3 linked regions of the Homo sapiens genome follow. The protein of the gene in region 1 purifies or fractionates together with the protein of each later gene. This does not show direct contact. Each region holds a gene or a part of one and is shown on either strand. Other genes may lie near its edges.

What was found.
Region 2: the proteins of COLEC12 (region 1) and ZC4H2 purify together in Homo sapiens (affinity purification with mass spectrometry; 2 studies listed by BioGRID and IntAct, with this or other methods). This does not show direct contact.
Region 3: the proteins of COLEC12 (region 1) and CSPG5 purify together in Homo sapiens (co-immunoprecipitation; 3 studies listed by BioGRID and IntAct, with this or other methods). This does not show direct contact.

Annotation. Positions count from the first base shown.
Region 1 is NC_000018.10:316,221-322,800, reverse strand, and holds the end of COLEC12 (collectin-12), read left to right. Parts: intron 1-993; coding exon 994-1,139; intron 1,140-2,736; coding exon 2,737-2,756; 3' UTR 2,757-6,064; downstream 6,065-6,580. UniProt on the Homo sapiens protein: Scavenger receptor that displays several functions associated with host defense. Promotes binding and phagocytosis of Gram-positive, Gram-negative bacteria and yeast.
Region 2 is NC_000023.11:64,966,366-64,973,480, forward strand, and holds part of ZC4H2 (zinc finger C4H2 domain-containing protein), read right to left. Parts: intron 1-7,115. UniProt on the Homo sapiens protein: Plays a role in interneurons differentiation. Involved in neuronal development and in neuromuscular junction formation.
Region 3 is NC_000003.12:47,561,833-47,568,947, reverse strand, and holds the end of CSPG5 (chondroitin sulfate proteoglycan 5 isoform 1 precursor), read left to right. Parts: intron 1-6,186; coding exon 6,187-6,348; 3' UTR 6,349-6,710; downstream 6,711-7,115. UniProt on the Homo sapiens protein: May function as a growth and differentiation factor involved in neuritogenesis. May induce ERBB3 activation.

The sequences.
Region 1 (6,580 bases):
GGCCATACAGGCTGTCTCCTCGGGTGACCCGAGGACACCCTGTGGCCAGTGCGGTAATGAGTCATTGTTTATAGGAAGCACCCTCCGCTGCAGATGTTCTTCCAGACCCTCCACATGAGGCAGGCTTGTCCTCTCAGGCAGCAGCCACAAGCTTCTGTGCATGAATCTGCTTCTTAGACAAGATTGAACCTTCAAGGGGTGAGTCTGGAAGCACACCTGATTTATTCGTGGAAACGTAATCAAGAACTGTTATCCATGGCAAGGTGCTGTTCTGAGCAGCAGCATCCAAGTTAAGAAGCCCCATGTGAACTCATCCTAAAGAAAACTTGTTTTTAAGAATCTCTCTCCCAAAAAAGGGAGTGAAATGTAGGAGTCATTTTCAGTAAGATTAAGTTACTATTTCTTTCTAAAGCAATCAACCTTCTACAACTCACCCAGACAATCATAACCAGTTATTTGTAATTGTAGGTTCTTGTAAATGTATATCAAAAGTCTTTCACTTTCTCTTCCTGGCTCTTGGACTTGTTAGAGGCAAGATATTGAAATGTACAAGGTCCCTCTGGGTTCTCACAAGATCATGTGTGCGTGTGTGTGTGTGTGTGTGTGTATCATGTCCTCATAATGAATAGATATTCACACACATATATACACTCATGCCCAGAAGTCAGCATTCCAGTACACATTAGAAAGTTATTCATCTAACTGTCCCAAAGCAAGATTCGCTCCCTCTGCATTCTGATGAACCAGCCTAGTGAGTTTGGTTCATGGTAGCAAAGATCACAAGCGCGCAGGGAGATGCCGCATTATGCATTACTCTGCAAAACAGCTGCTCCTTTCTCTGAATAAGAGCATGTACTGATTTTTAAACTGCATTTTCATTCCAGGATAAATGACATGCTTCAATTTTGTTTTTTTATATTCTCTGCTGCTCTTGAGTAAAGAAAAGCTCTGCATTACTGTGCAAATAACATTCAATTTCTGTTTTGCTAAAAGAAATTGGAAAGCTGGACAGCCGGATAACTGGGGTCATGGCCATGGGCCAGGAGAAGACTGTGCTGGGTTGATTTATGCTGGGCAGTGGAACGATTTCCAATGTGAAGACGTCAATAACTTCATTTGCGAAAAAGACAGGGAGACAGGTGAGCAGTAGATGGGATTTAAGAGGGAGCTGCCAGCTTATGTCCTATGAAAGGGTGAGGGGTGGTGAGTACAAGGGCCCTGAATGCAGGCACTGCAATTAGGTTTCAGCCCTGGTTATGCCATTTATTAACTGGGCAGGTGATTAACCTCAGGGAAATAGTAATAGCATCTTCTTCACGAGGTTGTGAAGATTTAAATAAGTTAATAAATGTGCCTCACATGTAGGAAGTACTCAACGAATGCTAAACTAACTGACCCACATAAGTATCTTATATTGTGAGTTAATTGTTCTTTAAAATATAGCACCAGCCAGGCACGGTGGCTCACGCCTGTAATCCCAGCACTTTGGGAGGTGGAGGCGGGCAGATCACCTGATGTTGGGAGTTTGAGACCAGTCTGGCCAACACGGAGAAACCCCATCTCTACTAAAAATACAAAATTAGCCGGGCATGGTGGCGCATGCCTGTAATCCCAGCTACTCAGGAGGCTGAGGCAGGAGAATAGCTTGAACCCAGGAGGCAGAGGTTGTGGGGAGCCGAGATCGCACCATTGCACTCCAGCCTGGGAAACAACAGCGAAACTCCATCTCAAAAAAGAAAAGAGATATAGCACCAATGTTAGTTCTTTTCCGTAGACATCCATACACAGCTAATCCAGGTGGCCAAGCGTTCAATTCCACGTGTATCTATTGAGCATCTACTATAGGCCAGATCCTGTGATACATAATAGAGGGAGATGGTCTGTGCTGCTTATCAGCTCATAAGCCAAAGCAGCTTTTGGAGATTTTCTTGACTTCAAAGGCTATGTATCTAAAGCTTCATTTAACACACGACCCTCTTTGGAATGTGGCATCTTAGTTTTCTTCACCAGAATGAGATTAAAAGTTTGTGATAGGGGACAGAGGAAATGGGGAATGAATGCTAATGGGTATGGGGTTTCTTTTTGGGGTGATGGAAATGTTCTAAAATTAGATTAGATTGGTTCTAAATTGCATAACTTTGTGACTATACCAAAGACCACTGAATTATATGCTTTAAATGGGTGAATTATACAATTTGTCAATTATATTTCAATAAAGCTGTTCATATAAAAACAAAAACCTCAAATATATTTTGGTCAAACTATTTTTGGAAGTAACTGGGGCATAAATTATCCGTATTGCCATTCAACAGACAGTTACTGAGCACCTTTGATGTGTCAGGCATTGGTCCAAGTGCTAGGGACCTTAAGACACATAGGAACTCACAGCTGGGTCAGTTGAGGGGGAAAAACACAGATATCTAAACAAGGGATTATAATTGATGGTGACAAGTAACTCAGATTTGTCTTTTGTATGCTTTGTTTGGCCATTTGGGATTTGAGTAGGGACCAGGCTTTCCCAGAATAGGCTTTTCAAAATGAAACTTGGCTTTTCAAAATGAAACTTATCTTTTCATCCAAATAAGATCTTCTAGACATTTCTTTGAAAATATAAGCATTGTTGAATGATGTATTTTAGACACTGTCCTATAAAAATACACGTTCCCTTTTTTTGAATTGCACATTAACTTTATTATTTAAGAAAAACTAATGCCCATTCTTATTTCTCTCTTTTAGTACTGTCATCTGCATTATAACGGACTGTGATGGGATCACATGAGCAAATTTTCAGCTCTCAAAGGCAAAGGACACTCCTTTCTAATTGCATCACCTTCTCATCAGATTGAAAAAAAAAAAGCACTGAAAACCAATTACTGAAAAAAAATTGACAGCTAGTGTTTTTTACCATCCGTCATTACCCAAAGACTTGGGAACTAAAATGTTCCCCAGGGTGATATGCTGATTTTCATTGTGCACATGGACTGAATCACATAGATTCTCCTCCGTCAGTAACCGTGCGATTATACAAATTATGTCTTCCAAAGTATGGAACACTCCAATCAGAAAAAGGTTATCATTGGTCGTTGAGTTATGGGAAGAACTTAAGCATATACTGTGTAAACAGTGCCATACATTTCTAAAATCCCAAGTGTAGGAAAAATATGCAGACATACAGATATATAGGCCAACTATTAGTAATAATATGAAATATACTTAAAGAGCTTTTAAAACTTTGTATTTTTGTACAAAATATTTGTCTTTTACAATTTTTTTCCTTTTTTTTTTTTTGTCATTTTACCGACATAATACATGGAGCCAAAGAAAACAATAATGGTACTAATAAAAACTCCTAGGGTTTCCTGTCAGATTTAATTCTACCCAGTGGCAAAGAATTTTTTCAATTGTGGCTTTAAAAAAATAATTAAATATACATGTGTATATATATATATATATATATATTTTTTTTTTTTTTTTTTTTTAATGTTTCATTTCCTCAGAGGAACCAATCACTTGGAATGTCTAGAAATATCCTTGCAGATTTTGCCAGTGTCAATCAAGCCTGCACACATGCACAGTGAAGCGGGCTGTGCCTGCCTTGAGCCCATCACCAGCCAACATTCTTGACGTGTGCCTGACCAGACACAGAAGAAATGGGCAACTCAAGACGTGCTTCCACTTCATTTTGGTGGAGTCGGGAGGTGTGGGGGATGGAGAGGCATCTGTTGGGAAGGGCACTGAATCTGGCCTATCTGGAAGGCCCTGTGTCATGGCTGAGCTATGACTGTACTTGGCATCAGATCCCTACAGAGCCAACATTAACTGTCAGGAACGTATGGCGTCACATCAGCCAAAGGCAGAGATGCTAGAAAGATGGGAACCGGCTACGTGTTACCTGGAAAGTTTGTTTTCTTAAGTCATATTCCAAAAACATAACTCCAAGGCATACGCATGATAAAATGCAAGAATAAACTTTTGGCCACTTTGTGGAACTCTTAAAAGAACCTTTCCAGCCGGGCGCAGTGGCTCATGCCTGTAATCCCAGCACTTTGGGAGGCCGAGGCAGGCAGATGACTTGAGGTCAGGAGTTCGAGACCAGCCTGGCCAACGTGGCAAAACCCCATCTCTACTAAAAATAAGAAAATTAGCCGGGTGTAGTGGCACATGCCTGTAATCCCAGCTACTCAGGAGGCTGAGGCAGGAGAATCGCTTGAGCCCAGGAGGCAGAGATTGCAGTGAGCCAAGATCGCACCACTGCACTCCAGCCTCGGTGACAGAGCAAGACTCCATCTCAAAAAAAAAAAAAAAAAAAAAACCTTTCCTCTGAGCCCATCTTCCTTTCGCTCCTTGACTTTCCTTGACTTGCTGTTGGAAAGTCTAATATGAAAAGGGCTGAAACTAGGCATTAAATATAACTGATGCTCAAAGGTAAGATTTCCATCCAACAGATTCCTTCTCCCTCCCAAGGGTCTTCCCAGGCAGTGCTGCTACTTATCCCAAATAAAATGGTAAAAGAATAAAGACAGCCGGGCGCGGTGGCTCACGCCTGTAATCCCAGCACTTTGGGAGGCCGAGGCGGACGGATCACAAGGTCAGGAGATCGAGACCATCCTGGCTAACACGGTGAAACCCCGTCTCTACTAAAAATACAAAAAAAAAATTAGCCGGGCGCGGTGGCGGGCGCCTGTAGTCCCAGCTACTCGGGAGGCTGAGGCAGGAGAATGGCGTGAACCCAGGAAGCGGAGCTTGCAGTGAGCCGAGATCGCGCCACTGCACTCCAGCCTGGGCGACAGAGCGAGACTCATCTCAAAAAGAAAAAAAAAAAAGAATAAAGACAGAGTTTGACTTTCCCACCTGCGAACAAGTGGACTGTACTGCTTTGCCCACAGTCTCCATTCCCCATTCATGCTGTTTTCACAGCCCAGTAATGGCCAACTGCTCAGCACCTGTGTGCCCTGCTGTCAGGCAGGTGGGACCCACAGTCCTCTGGGCCTAAACTGCTGAAGCCTGCACCACAAGGCGGGCACGGCATTCCAACACCTCTTCAGGCTCAACAGCCTTTAGAGGCTACACTGAGTCCTCTTTTTCATGCTCTTCCTGGTTTTCAAGTGTCAATTAAAATTTGTCTTCAGAAGAAACTTGAAAATAAGTATCTGATGCCGTCATCAGGATAGACTAGTATTAGCTTTCGCAGCTGAAGTTATTGCTCTCCCAGCCCTAATAATAACTTACCAAGTGCTTATTATTTATCAGGCACTGGTCCAAGTCCTTCAATCAGATTGTCTCACCTGATCCTCCCAACAGCCCTAGGAAGCAGGTCTTACTACACTCCCCATTTCACAGGGACTGGGGCTTGGGGAGGTGATGCGGTTTCCTGGGTCACTCCATTACTGAGTAGTGAGACAGGATTCAGACGCAAGCTTTGAAAATGTTCTAATTTTCTTTAGAAGGAAGGGCCCTTCTTAATAGCACACTGAATAAAATCAAATGAATAATCACACATTACAAGATGCCTCCTATACGTCTCTATATTTAGCTACTTACATACCAGGTTTCTTTTTTGTTTGTTTTTGTTTTTAAGACAGAGTCTCGCTCTGTCACCCAGGCTGGAGTGCGGTGGCGCGATCTCGGCTCACTGCAATCTCTGCCTCCCAGGTTCAAGCGACTCTCCCGCCTCAGCCTCTGCAGTAGCTTAGGGACTACAGGTGCGTGCCACCATGCCAGGCTAATTTTTGTGTTTTTAGTAGAGACACGGTTTCGCCATTTTGGCCAGGCTGGTCTCAAACTCCTGACCTCAGGTGATCCACCCGCCTTGGCCTCCCAAAGTGCTGGGATTACAGGTGTGAGCCACCGTGCCCGGCCTACACACCAGCTTTCTATTCACCTACACACAACTGATGCTCTTTTGGAGTGGAGAGTTTTAGTAAAATATGATGGGGTCTTCAGGCACCTGAGTTGCTACTTACTACTATGAGAAGATAGAAAATGTTTTTTCCTCTAAACAGCTTTTGAAAGAATGAATGCACAACAAGGCAAAAAATAAAAACTTTCTTTTCCTTTTCTACGATCAATGTTCAACAACTCGTTCCTTCCAATTTGTAACAGAGTTGAAGCTGAAACAGACAAAAAATAGTAATAGCTGCTCCCATTTAAAGAAAAATGCTTGAGGAAACAGCTGTATAAATCAAGAAACAATACCAAGCAGATGACGAAACTGATCTCTTCTTGAGAACGTAAGCATGTTAGCTCATTCGTGACTCAAAGTCATGTAATAATAGTTGACATATACCACTTTTCACATACATTATCGCTTCCAGTCTTCACGCACATCTATTGTTCCTGCTTGAGAAATGAGGAAACTGAGGCTCAGGTTGAAGACTTGCCCATGGCTCACGTATCTGTCACAGTCACTTTCCAAAAAGCAAATCTGATCAGGTTCCCCACTCAGGTCCCCAAATCTGAATCCATCCTACCTCTCACCCTCGGCTTAAAATCTTCCAAACAATCCTGGTTGGGCTCAGGACATACCTGCAGGGGCCGTAAGGCACTTGGTACCTGGTTCCCAACTCCAAGTCTAGCCTTC
Region 2 (7,115 bases), on another chromosome or scaffold:
AGGACATCCACTTTCAAAAACACTTGTATCTTAAAAAGTTATACATATACTTACAATATGAAACAGAAATCTCACTCCTGAGAATCTAAGCAGTAGAAATGGAAACATTTTTCCACAAAAAGACTTGTACACAAATGTGCAGAGCAGCATTATTCATAAGAGCCAAAACAGTGGAAATAACTGAAATGCTCCTCAACTTGTGAGTGAACACCCAAAATGTGCGATATCCATGCAATGGGATATTATTTGTCAACAAAAAGGAATGAAATACTGTTACATGTTACAATGTGAATGAATCTCAAAAACAATAAGCTAAGTGACTGAAGGCAGACCCAAAAGGCCACATTTGTATAACTATTTATATGCAGCATCAAGAAAAAGCCACTCTATTTAGACAGAAAATATATTACAGGTTTCCTGGGGCTGTGGATAAGAACAAAGATCAACTGAAACTGAACAAAGAGCTAATTTTGGAATGATGGAAATTTTCTAAAATATTATGGTGATGATTGTACAACTCTTTAAATTTATTAAAACATGCTGAATTGTACACTTGAAATGGATGTTTCCTATGGTATATAAAATATAACTCAAATTATCCTGTAATGACCTCTTACTGCACCCAGAATTAAATCTAAACCTACAACTCCCACTAAACATAACTTCTAAGCATGCTCATGTTTTCCCAGAAAAATAAATGACTTGTCAAAAGGCTTACGTAGAGGGAATGGATTTTTTTAAAGTTTGCTGATTAAGGCAGCCAGGAGAAATGAGAAGGAGCTTAATGGCTTAATAATAAATAAATAAATAAATAATTTGTTGCATTTGAGGTAGATTGCCTTTACTATGGTCTTCAGGATTTGCATCTAATTCCCAGCCTTCCATTCTCTGTCCAGCAATTGAGAAGTTTGAGCTAAGATTAAATCTAAATAAAAGGCCCTTCCTCTCTCTAATCTACAAAGAGTGTCATGCCAGTCACTGCTTAGATGTACTCACAATACCAAATTCCCTCTTTACAAACTTCCATCAATCAAGCAGACTTAAAAATTGTATTAAGCAAGCACCATTTATCCAGAAGTGCGCTGGTTCTTGTGGATGAATGATAAGATCCCTTCCTTCAAATAAAATAACTGATTGAGATCCAATATAGAAAATGGAACAAATCATAACTGTTATGGTTAAAGTGGAAGTGGGACCCCCAGAGTCATTAATCTGTCCTCAAATTCAACCACCACCTGACTCTATCACAGTGGCCCTTTAAAACCCTCCTTAGAATTCCCTGGGCTCGTCAGAACATTATTTCAAAGTCACCCATGAAATCTATCCTCTTTATTTCAGAGGTGAATAAATAAAGGTCCAGGATGGGAAAGGGACTAGCACAAGGCACATAGTCATGGTCCTCTGGGTCCTCTAAAAAGTACAGATTTATGCATGAAGCAACTTGAAATCAGAGTAATTATATACACGAGGGCTTTCTAGACAGTGGCACTATGCCATATTTCTCTCTTTAACCTCCACAACACCTATCATTCTGCTTTGGCCATAAGCGGGGCTCAATCATTACATTTGGAATGAGAAACTACTGAATGGTAGGTAGTAAATCCAGGGGAGTGATTATAGCATCAGTAGCCTCAGAGAAGAAAAGACATTACCATGGGTGGCAAGGATTTCATTCATTTGGTTCATATTTATTAAGAATCTATCTAAGTGACAGGAACTGAAAGCAACCGTCTGTTAAGAAAGGCTTTATTTAATAACAATAGCTATTATATTTGTGGTGCCTACTATGTTCCAGCAACTGTATTAGGCACTTTTTATGCTATCAAAATTTAATCTTCATAAGAACCATATCGGCAGGTATGTTTCACTTTATTTTCACACATGAAGAATTTGAGGCTGAGAGAAGTAAAGTGACTTGCCCAAGAAGACAAATTCAGGAAGTGGAAAATCCAGCGTTGTAAATCTGATCACCTTTCCATCACAACAAGGAACTTTCATCATATGATGGATTTAAAGCCATAAAAACCAGGCCAGTAGGGTGAATTCTTGTCCTGGCTCAGTCATCAATTTTCAGGGTGAAATAGTGCACTTCATGGAATCTCTTGGCACCTTGGAAATTCTACCTGGAAAGTAGGACTCAGTGTAGCCTTGCATGGAATTGTTGGATGCTTCAATGAGATGAAATCTGTGGAATGTTTGGCCCTACAAGTGAGGAAGCCATCCAGATCATTAAAGATGCAATTTTATATATAAAATTTCCTAATGAGATTTTTCCAAGAGGCTAAAGCACAGCTAGTATGACTCGTGAACCACAGGGAAACCACAGGGTTTTCAGGGTACTTTAGGGTTTCTACAGTCACCAGGATGACAGTCTTAGGTAACTTTTGGACCAGTATTCCTGAGCTCCTGTCCTAGTCTGTTTGTGCTTCTATAACACAATACCACAGACTGGGTAATTTGTAAAGAACAAAAATTTATTTCTCCCAGGTCCGAAGGCTAGGAAGTTTAAGATCAATGTGCCAACAGATTTGGTGTCTGGTGAGGGGCTTGGTCTCTCCTTCCAAGATGGCACCTTGTTGCTGCATTTTCAAGAGGGAGTGAATGTTGTGTCTTCATATGGTGGAATCACAGAAGTACAAAAAAGGGTCTAAACTCATTCCAAGTCATTTTCTAAGGCACTAATCCATTCATAATGGCAGAGGCTTCATGACTTAATTACTTCCCGAAAGGTCTCTCCTCTTAATACCATCAAAATGGTAGGATTATGTTTCAACACATGAAATTTGGGGTACATTCAAATCATAGCAGACTGCTAGGCCACAGGTTCTCCAGACAGTCTCCTGAGCCAAGACTATAAAACATTCAGCTGGATACCTTCTTTTCAATGATTTCTTTCTGGCAAATATGGAAGAGGACAGGTGCAAAGAAGGAGAAGTTCTAGGGCCATGGATCATCCATTGCTGGGACAAACTTGGCAGGCTCATCTGTCACCCAGTTTCAGAGGTGACTCAGCCCCAATGCACACTCAAAAAGCAGGGTAGGACAGCTGGGACCTGTAGGCCTTGAAGATGGGAAAATTAGGTGAAAAGATACTGTTTACTGGAGATTGATGGAAAAGTGCTGGTATTTGTTAATAAGTTGAGGGGATGATGAGAAGTGGACAATTCCAGATTATATTGTATAGGTATAACTGGCCAGGTCTTACTAATGCAGTTGTTCTCCACATGTAGTCCCTGCACCACCAGCAGCAGCATTGCCTGGGAACTTGTTAGAAATGTAAATTCTCAGGCCCCACTCCATATCTACTGAATCAGAGACCCTGGAAATGGGGCTCAGCAATCAATGATTTAAAAGCCCTTTAGGTGTAACCTCCTGCATGGTCAAGTATAATAACCACTATGCTAATGGTGTGGATGGAGAGGGTCACATAAAAAGAGGAATAAAGAATGGCTTCCAGATTTCAGCATAGTGAGGCATTTACTGAGATGGGGAAGACTGGGAAATAAAAATGTTTAGGGGTGGGGCTGGAGTTGAGGGCCTGTTTGAGATGCCAGTGATACATGCAAGGGTGTAAGTTAAATGGGCAGTTAGATATGTGAGTCTGGAACTCAAGGGAGAGATCAGAGCTATTGACTTTGATTAGAAGATCCTTCTGATGGGTCTTATTTATCCTAAGTGATGGGCCACCAAAGGATAGCCCAGCCCTGATTATGGCCCAGATTTATGCTCAGTAAATGTCACTGAATGAACACAAAGGAGCTAGTTTTTCCTGCTTACTCCAGTCTGGTGAGAATATTGCCTAAGTACTAAGCATTCTTCCATGTAATATTTATTTGCTCAACTGGAAACAAAGCTACTGTCAGCAAAGTAGATTTCTTATAACAGTTCATTCTGATAACTTTCTTACATCTCAATACCAAATGCCAACACCTTTTCAGTCTCTCCTGTGGCCAGCATTGTTTGGCTTAATTTGCCCATCCACAAGTCCCAGAGGTTCCAGTTGTCCTGTGCCTTGGTCTTGAGTAAGCACTGGTTCTGAGTCAATCCCCAAGCCAGGTAACAGAGGAGCTTACCAAGACTGCCACACCAATGGCGGAAGGAAAGGAAGAAGGGAGGAAGAGAGGAAGAGAGGAAGGGAGGGAGGGAGGGAGGGGGGAAGGAAGGAAGGAAGGGAGGAAGGAAGGGAGGATATCAATTCAAAATTCCATCATTAGATGGGATAACTTGAGTGCTATAATAAATCTCCCTGTGGAGTCTGTGGTTGGGGTATTGTAATTCATTTTGACTGGGGAACTCGAGAAGGTTTTGGAGAAGACGAGGCATTTCATATGGGTCTTCCTTGAAAAATGAGTAGGATTTAGATGCTTGGAATGGGAGAGTGGCATTCTAGAACGAGGAATCTGCAGAGGCAAAGGTCTGGTGGAACGGAAATATATAAAACAGTAAGAACTTCTATATGGCTAAAGGATAGGATTAATAAAAAGCAGTAGCAGATAAGGTCAGAATAGTGGGTATGGGACAGATTTCCGGGGAGGCAGCATGAATGCCATGGAAACACCGATAGGTAAATGTGTGTTCAACAGAGACACAGTAAGAAATGACGTAAGTGAGAAATGAATTTCACCTCATGACACAATACACACATACACATATTTAAAACTAAACAAAACCTTCTCCAAAGTATACCTACTACTTCATATGCAATGTATGTTGATAATTTCCTTTTTATTTTAAAAAAGGTTTTTTAAAAATGCTACTAGTGACCAACTAAATTCTTTTTATGAGCTAATAATGGGACGCAGCCTGTATTTTTCAAAAAGATTGTCATACACAATGAAAAGTTAGTGAAGATGTTTGAGAAATAAAATAACAACCATGCTTTAGGAAGGTAGTTCTCAAGGCAATGTGGATGCCATTGCAGACAGAGGAGAGACTGTAGACAGGGAAGTAATTCTTCAGATGGAAATGGATACTGCATTACAAATATCCATGCCAATTCATAATGAAGGCCTGAAATGGAGCAGTGAACTGGGAGGTGGAGAGTGGGGCAGGTATTGGGTAAGATATTCAGGATAGAAATAGAATTAACTAAGTGATTGCAGGTGAGTCATTAAAGAGAAAGGGGAGTCAACATTGACTTTCAGATTGCCATCTGAGGTAACTGTGCAGAGAATGGTGGTATTAAACCAAAGGTTTAAGGGGAGGAGCTTGATTGCTGTAGGAAGAGACGTAGATATAAAGCTGAGATTTATCTGTGAAACTTCCAGGCGGACAAGCCCAGTAGGCTGTCATATGTATGGGCTAAAGCATGAATGTGGGTGGGGTATAGAGGTTGGAGATTTGGAGGATAATATTTGAAGCCATGGAAGTACAGGAATTTACTCAAAAGAGTGTGTAGAAAGAAAAAAAGAAAAGAAGGACCCAGTCGAGAAACATTCATTTAAGAGTACCTACTTAACTCAACATCTCCTTCCAAAATGGTTTTTCTTTTTTTCAAGTGAGGAAAGCTCTTTGTGTATGGATATGTGTACATCGGGGTGTGAGTGTACGCAATACACATGAATGGATGGCATGTGCATTTTAAGGAAATATTGTTTTGTACTTGGGGAGCTGGTGTAGGGCTCTGGTCCATTTAATGGTGCCTGTACTCACTGTCTCTGTTTTATTACTGCTATCCTCCCTTTCCCTCTTTTCTATCTCCCTTCTTTTGTTCCATTCTTGTCTCTCTTCTTCCACTTATCTACATGCTCCTTCATCACCATTTAAAAGTCCAAGGAAAACATGGGCAAAATAGATTAGTGTAGGATTTGGAGGCTGAGGTTGGGAACATAATGTGGGAGTGTGATTGGGATTGGGAGGAAAGACAGGGGTAGGCGTGTGTTCAGAGTTAGAAGCAGAAAATGGTCTGTGGTGGGAGAATCTGCTTCTGATGTTTTTCCCACTGCAAATTCTGCCATTGGTGTGAGTGCTGAGTATGAATGCATATATTTCTGGGCTCGTGTCTTGATGTGTGTAAGGCTCTTAGCTTGACTTCAATAGGTCATTAGATGATGCTGCTGTCATCATTCCTGCTTCTGTCCAGCAAACATTATTTCTTTAACAGAAATATGCTGCTATGCTTATACTTCAGGAGATTTAGGATTATAGCAGTTGAAGAACTGTGAATAATGGTTAATCAGATAATCAGCATTTGTAAGGGCAGTTAATAACATTGAAATGTGCATGCCATGTGAATAGGAGGATATATTATTTTTTCTTTCCTAGCTGTGTAACCATGGGAAAGTTGCCTAATCTGTCTGATCCTCAATGTCCTTATCCGTAAAGTGGGGGTAATAATTCCTATCCCAGATTTCCTTTGGGAAGACTAAAGAGTAAATGAGCCAGGAGCTTTTAAATTAAAAGGTGCTTGACAAATGTTAGTTCCTTTCTTCAGTTTCTTTGACCCTTTGCTCCTTCCTTATTTCTATCTCTCATACATGTTTATCTGTCCATATGTGAACATCAAGTATATATTTATAGTACTTTCTCCATTTTAAATTCTTAAACCAAGTGGCTTAACCTTTGTATATTACTGTAAAATTGTCAAAAGCAGTTTAATTTAAGTCACTTTTGGAACACACACATTTGGAATTGTTATGTCTTCTTGGTAGATTGACTATTTTTCATTATGTAATATCCATCTCTAGGAATTTTCTTTGCTCTGAAGTCTGTTTTATTTGATATTAAGATGGCCATTCCTGCTTTATTTTGATTAATGTTTGCAAGGTATTTAGACTATTTGTTGTGAACATAATTATTGATACATGAAGGCTAAGTCTGCCTTTTTATTTTTTTTTCTGTTCATTCTCCGTAATTTTAGTTTCTCCATTTTCTTTGCCCTGCCTGCCTGTGGGTGACTGGAGCATTTTTTAAAAATTCATATTGATTTATTTATAATGTTTTGAGTACATTTCTTTGTATAGCATTTTCAGTGTTTTCTCTCAGTAATATATTATGTATACATAATTTATTTAATAGTCTTCTGACATTACCACTTTACATGCTTGAATGAAGTGTAGAAGCATGTCCTCCCCTTTACATCTCTTTACATTTACAATCCCCTTTACATTCCCCAG
Region 3 (7,115 bases), on another chromosome or scaffold:
GGGCAGCAAAGGTGGGAATAAGCACTTGATGGTGTATCACTTATTTGACAAGCAGAATTTTCGATACAAAAGGTCTTTTTCTTTTTAAAATTTTTGTAGAGATGAGGTCTTCCTGTGTTGCCCAGGCTGGTCTCGAACTCCTGGCCTCAAGTGGTCTTCCTGCCTCAGGCTCCTAAAGTGCTAGGATTATAGGTGTGAGCCACCTGCCTGGCTGAGAAGATCTTTTTCTAGGGTTACTCATGATTTTTAGCTTCATCTAAGCTTTAGAAGTCTGATTATTGTCTTATTTTCCATATCAAGGAGAAAGGCTCTGCTTTCACTGCTGGGGAATTTCATGGTGGTCAGTGAAGCAAACGGTGGTTGCTCTTTGGGATGGGTGGAAAGACTTCTGTGTCCTTGCTGCTATTTGAGGATCCTAAGAACTGGCAGGGTTATACACAGCTGGTTAAGGCCAAGGCCCAAATACAAAACACTGGCAGAGCCTTAAGTCCAGGAGTAATCCTGTTCTTAGGAGTATGGGCTTATAAATATCAGTTGAAATCCAATAAAAGATCCTAATAGACCATTTTCTAAAGACCCTGGCCTAGTGTATTGCCTGGATTAGACTGACCAGTCAAATACTAGAGAGAATTTCAAAAACAAGGCAGAAACCATATCCAAATCTCAAATCATGCCACATCCAAATCCTAGAATTCTCTATATAATGCAGGTTCCATACTTCAAGATAAATGCATTTTTACACAGATTATTACACAGATAAGCAAGTTAAACTGAGACTTCAGACTGAAGCAATGGACTTTAAGAGGAAATTTAGAAGAAGTTCTTAGAAATCATGGACCATAGAGTGTCAGACCTCACAGGGGCCTCAGCACTCTAGACCAATACGGTCCAGTGGAACTTTCTGTGAAATGGAAGTGTTCTATATCTGCTCTGTCTACTACAACAGCCACTAGCCACTTGCGGCTGTAGAGCTCTTAACTACCACATTACACAGTGCAGACCTAGACTCCTGGGCTCAAGTGATACCCCTGCCTCAGCCTCCTGAGTTGCTAGGACTAGAGGCATGTGCCACCACACCTGGCTAATTATTTTAACTTTTGTAAAGTTGAGGTTTTGCCATGTTGCCCAGGCTGGTCTCGAACCCCTGGGCTCAAGTGATCTTCCTGCCGCAGCCTCCCAAAGTGTTGGGATTACAGGTGTGAGCTACCATGCCTGGCCTTCTTCCTTTTATAGATGGGGAAATTGCAGCCCCAGAAGGGGGAAGAGAGAATAAGAGTAAATGTGTGGCCTCATTCACAAAACCCCAGAACAGGAAATTTTGGCCTGGTAGAGGAGAAGTAAATGGGTGAATTTAAATATGAAATGAAAGAGGTAAACTTAGGATAATTTTTTAAAGTCTTTGATATAAAGGGTAGAAAAAGAACAGATTATTTCACTTGGTTTGTACCAAGATACAACAAGTAAGGTCAAGATGAACATTATAACCAAGGAAACACTATGTCTTATAAACTCTAAAATTGGTCACCATGTTCATCAACCCACAGAGGGCAGGACAGAGTCTCGGTGAGCACATTATCCCGCCCTCTGCAGTAACATGCACACAGTTACCACTTGCTGAATACTAGTGAGTGATGGTGGGCTATGGGGGCTCTCAGTTCCATTGGCTGATCTGCCATCCTGCAGATGGCAGCAGGTCTGCCAGGACGGGAGCTCCTGTAGTCAGCATGTTCACTGTCCACGGTTGGACAGAGTCCTCCCACTCTGCTTGACAGAGTGCAAGCATCCTTAGGAAAGTTTCTGACCCTTGTGTTTCTAATACCACAGCTTCAGACACCTTTCTTCTTCTCAGAGGGGGAAAAGAAAGAGCTCCTCTTGGAGGGCTTGGCTACACAGCCGGTGCGAAGGTTTCTTGTTCTTGGCTGATCCAGCTTTGTGGAAAGTGAGGCTTTTGTACCTGAACGCTGCCACTGACCCTTAGTTCAGAAGATGGCAAGCCTTGAAAACAGCAGAGCAGGGGGTGGTCAGCCACGGGAGGGTGGTGGTCGGCCACGGTGTGTGGTTGGCCACAGGCAGTGGTGATCTAGCATGGGGCTTGGGGGTCAGCCACAGGGCGGGTGAGGCTGGTCGGCCATAGTGGGCTCTGCCTGAGACAGGGTGATGGGGTGGCCAGGGCGGCACTCAAGCCATCCCTTAGGAAGCAGCAAGATCTGGCTCTGGTTCTCTCCTGGCTCCTCTTGGATCTTGAGGCTGGTGCCTTTTTTTATTGTAACCAAATACCCAGACTTCAAGGAGATTGAGGCTGGTGTCTTTCCGTCAGCTTGTGCCCAAGGGGACATCATCTTCTCCTCTCTGAAAGCACTGTGGATGTGAGGGGTGACTCTCCTATCCAGCAAGGAATGTAGTGGTGGATTTTCTACCTTCATCTCTAATTCTCTCCACCTCATCCAAAGGTCAAACTTAGTCATATTCAAGATCTTGTGGGCATTGCCGATGAACACGGTTGCCACTTGTTTGTGAAGTGAAGCCCTGCTCACTGCTACAGCCGCCACACTCACTGCCTGCAAGGGGTGCCAGCAGCCGGGGAGAGTGAGAGATCCTCCAGATGATACGGGAGGAGAGACAAGGGGGCGCCGGAGTCCAGCCTGCCTCGTGGCTTCTCCCCACCCCTCTCTCCCCACCCCCAAACTCCTTGCTGGTATTGGTTTTCTCTAAAATTTTGGAGAGTTTTATTTATTTGCATCGAGGTGTTATTTCTTTTACATACGTAAAATAGATTGAGCAGGTCATTTTCCTACACTGTCGCAATCACCTCTACCAGCCACACTCTGAAAAGATTGCAAGCAAAAAAGTCTGGGGCTTTGGGCCTGTGACAGGGAAGGGTCAGTGGCTGGTATCTGTGCCGGTGGCACCTCTTTCCCTCCTCTGCTCCTCTCTGCCCTCAGGCTGATGTGCGGCTCTGTAGCTGGTGGGCCTTAGGCTGAGTCTGTGTGAGTGTCTTGCGTAGCTGAGCAACCAGCCTTGAAGGGTATGTCAGGAGGCACAGAGAATGTAGGAAGCTGCCCGTGCTCCAGGCACACTGCGTGAATGAAGCCACCAGAAACCCAGGGCAGCTGCCCCAACACTGGGCTGCCCTGATGGTCCTCACAACGGTGCTGTCGAGACCATGGGGGTAACTTGGGTTGTGCTAAGATTTGACAGACCTTCCGGGATTTCAGTTTATTCCTAGGATTTCTCCATTGATGTTCCTGTGCTTTTTTTTTTTTTTTCCTATTTAACTCTTTCCTACTCTCCAGACTCTTCTCTTGCATGTATTTGTTAAAGCACTGACTGCCCACCCTCTTCCAATAGATGTTTGCCTCTGGCCAGGCCTGAACCCACATGACCCCTGGGTTGAAGGGTGCCCATACTGCTGGGATTGAATGCTGGGAGCAGTGAGTCCACAGTGGTTCCTAGGAACTTATGCCAGATGTTGATCCAGCTCCCTTGTGATGAGGTACTTCTATTAAGTCAAAGGCAGTTGGACCTGCTGTGGAATTCAGCTACCCTTGGCTTAATAGGATCAAGTTCTGGAGCAAACACCTGAGTTAGGAGAGCCCCATCTTGGTGTAGACATTCCTTTGCCTCTTGTGTTTGTTGGAGGTATTCAGCTTGTCTAATAGCACTGTTTGCATATCTCTTGCTTTTGGGATATGCTTCTTCCATCCCTTGGCTCAGAAGACAGTTTTCTAATCTAGATCCCATGAGCCCTCGAGGGCTCAGGTTTAATCTGGGAGCCCACCTTCATGGCATCAGAGCTCTGAGACCAGGGTCTGTGAGGAGTCACTTAGTCCACTTTTCTTCACATCATGAGAATGTTTCTGTACCCCTGTATGCCCCCAGAGAATATGTGATGAAGGAGTTGAGGGTGGGAGGTTATCTTGAAAGACATAAAAGCAAGTTGTATCCTTGTAAGAGGAGAGGTGATTATAGGTCCTCTTGTCCTGTTCTAGATTTTAGTGTGATTCAAAGTCCATCCTACCTAAGATACTTATAGCTCAGCTCTCCAGCTTTCATGACCATGGTTTCCCCCAAACAGTACAGAAGTACACGAAATAAAAAAGTGCAGCTCTACTTCACCCCCACCTCCCTCTCCGTAAAGTACACACGTGTGTATATATATATACACACACAAACACACACCTATATCTATATTTTTAAAACATAAATGAGAGTTTGCTATACATGTTCTACCCCTTACTTTTTTTCAATCAGTGTATGATGGAGATCTTTCCGTCTCAGGAGATGGACATTTATGTCACTGCACAGTGTTTTGTGATTCTAAGCAGTGATTGACCATTCAACTGGCCGCGCGTGCTGTGTGCAGCTGCCTTACCTGACATCTGCCTCAGTACTCTATGAAGTTCATTTTCTTGTTCTTGTCTCATTGGAACAAGAAACATGTGTTCCCCTGTCTATAAATCATGTGTGAAGTCTTTGAAACTCTACTAAATTGTCCTCCTTAATCTGGGCCTCTGGAGAAGCACCGAGTGAGGCTGTGGGCAGTGGGCAGCTGGCAGTGATTTCCATATGCACAGAACTCATGGATGCCCCGGTGTCCTGTGTGTACAAGAACCATGGAAAGCCCGGGGTCTCTCCCTACTTTCTTTCCAACTCATCACTCCCATAACCTAGTGCTGTTATGGGTCAAACTTGGTAGCAGGCAGCACAGACGAGGGCTCACCAGACTTCTCTGGAGAACACTCTGGTCCTTAAGCATGATGGTAATCTTGAATTTTGGTAGTGGTTAAAGCAAGAATGGCCTTAGCTAGCTGGTCAGATTAGGACACTCTCTACCTTCTTGTCATCCATGAATCTGCCTTAGTGGTTACACACTGTCTTCTATCAGCAGAGTTCCAAGCACTTACAACAGCTATTTGGGGCACCAGAGAAAGAACTGAGGCCCACTGAATTGCACTGGGTATATTCCCCTTAGGTGGTCCTAAAGGAAATGAGTAAAGCAAGATTTGCCACAGAAGTTCTCTGAACGTGCAGAATGTAGACCTGGAGGACTATGTGCTAGTGTGAGCTTCCTGAGAACCTTTAAGAGGCAAATTCAAGCCGGCGTGGTGGCTCACACCTGTAATCCCAGCACTTTGGGAGGCCGAGGTGGGTGGATCCCTTGAGGCCAGGAGTTCGAGACCAGCCTGGCCAACATGGTGAAACCCTATCTCTACTGAAAATACAAGTTAGCCGGGCATGGTCACGAGCGCCTATAATCCCAGGTTCTGGGGAGACTGAGGCACGAGAATCCCTTGAACCCAAGAGGTTCAAGATTGCAGTGAGCCGAGATCACACTACTGTACTCTGGCCTGGGCGACAGAGCAAGACTCCTTCTCAAGAATAAATAAATAAATACATCAATAAATACATAAATACATAAAATGCAAATTCAGCTCAGGTTCAGGAGTTTGTCAGAGGGAGCTTGTCACAGGGCTGTAGGCAATATACATGGATTATTACATTAGAATCAGCAGTACGAATATCATGTGATGCAGAGTGTGGCAAGCCATTGAGGCAGCCAGGGTCATTCGGGCTTGGATTGAGGACATACCTTTTTAGCTAGCATCTTTTAGCAGGTTCACTTGTGACAATGAGAGGCTGACACATCTTTGACCTCTAGTCAGCGGAGATGCTCTTACTGTGGGGAGAGAGGCCCCAGCATAGTCAGGAGCAGTTCTGCACTTTACCAGTTCTATGCATACCCCACTGTATACACTGATGAGACATGTTCCCTGACCAAGACATCTTTGTGAAAGCAAAACTCAACAGGATGGAAGGCCAGAGGAAGGCCGGGCTCAGCAGGCCCCGCAGAGCTCATCAACACATGAGGCTATAGAGGCGCCTGGGCCAAGGGACTCTTTCTCCCCAATCTCTGTCCAAGAGAAAACCTTGGACATGGCACAAATTAAAGTTATTTGTAAACTGATTACTGTCAAGTTTTCCTCTCTGCCTGGCCATTTCTTGTAAGGATGACTTTCCTAAAAAGTTGCTGCTAATGAGTTACTTTGGTTCCTTTTAGTTCATTCAAGTCTTGGAGCTTTTTCCTTGTTTCAGTGATGCTTCCTTCAACCAGATAGAAAACGCTGATATTATTATTTGGTTGCTGTATGCATTGTCTCCCCCCCCCCAACTTTTTCCCTCTTCCAGGATGATCCTAGTGCTCCCCACAAAATCCAGGAGGTTCTCAAGTCCTGCCTGAAAGAGGAGGAGTCATTTAACATCCAGAACTCCATGTCGCCCAAACTTGAGGGTGGCAAAGGTGACCAGGCTGACTTGGATGTGAACTGTCTTCAGAATAATTTAACCTAAAGCAGAGCAAGAAGAGAGGAAGCGGGGGTAGTGGGTGGGGGGTAGGGGAAGAAACATTATCTCCTCTTGTACAGAGTCTATTTCTTGTAACCATTTGTTAAACTCTTTTCTTTTTCTGATCTCATGGCATGCTTTTATGTATTTTGTACAGGAGGCAAAAAAATACTTAAAATAAGCAAAGAAACTGAACAGAATTGCATACATTGGGTTGTTTTTTCTGTGCTGTCTGTACATTGCTTCTGCTGCTGTGATTTCTAAACCTGTGCTGTTATTCAACTGACTTTTTTTTGTACTTTGACCCACGTTTTTTTGAAATACCAGTAAAAAACAAAGTTCTTGAAATAAAACTTTTTAAAAAGTTATTCATTTTCTTAGTCTTTGTGTCCACTCCTTTAAGTTTGAGTTGAGTAACCTTCATTGAAGATGTTTGTTTATTTATTTATTTATTTTGAGGTGGAATCTCGCTCTGTCACCCAGGCTGGAGTGCAAGGCTCACTGTAGCCTTGACCTCCCCAGCTCAAGTGATCCTCCCACCTCAGCCTTCTGAGTAGCTGGGACTACAGGTGCAAGCCACCACACCTGGCTAATCTATAAATTTTTTTTGGAAAGGCAGGGTCTCACTATGTTGCCCAGGCTGGTCTCAAACTCCTGGGCTCAAGCAATCTGTCTCCTCAGCCTCCCAAAGTGCTGGAATTACAAGTGTGAACCACTGCACCTGGCCAAAGATGTATATTTATTTATATTTATTTATTTGTTTATTTATTTTT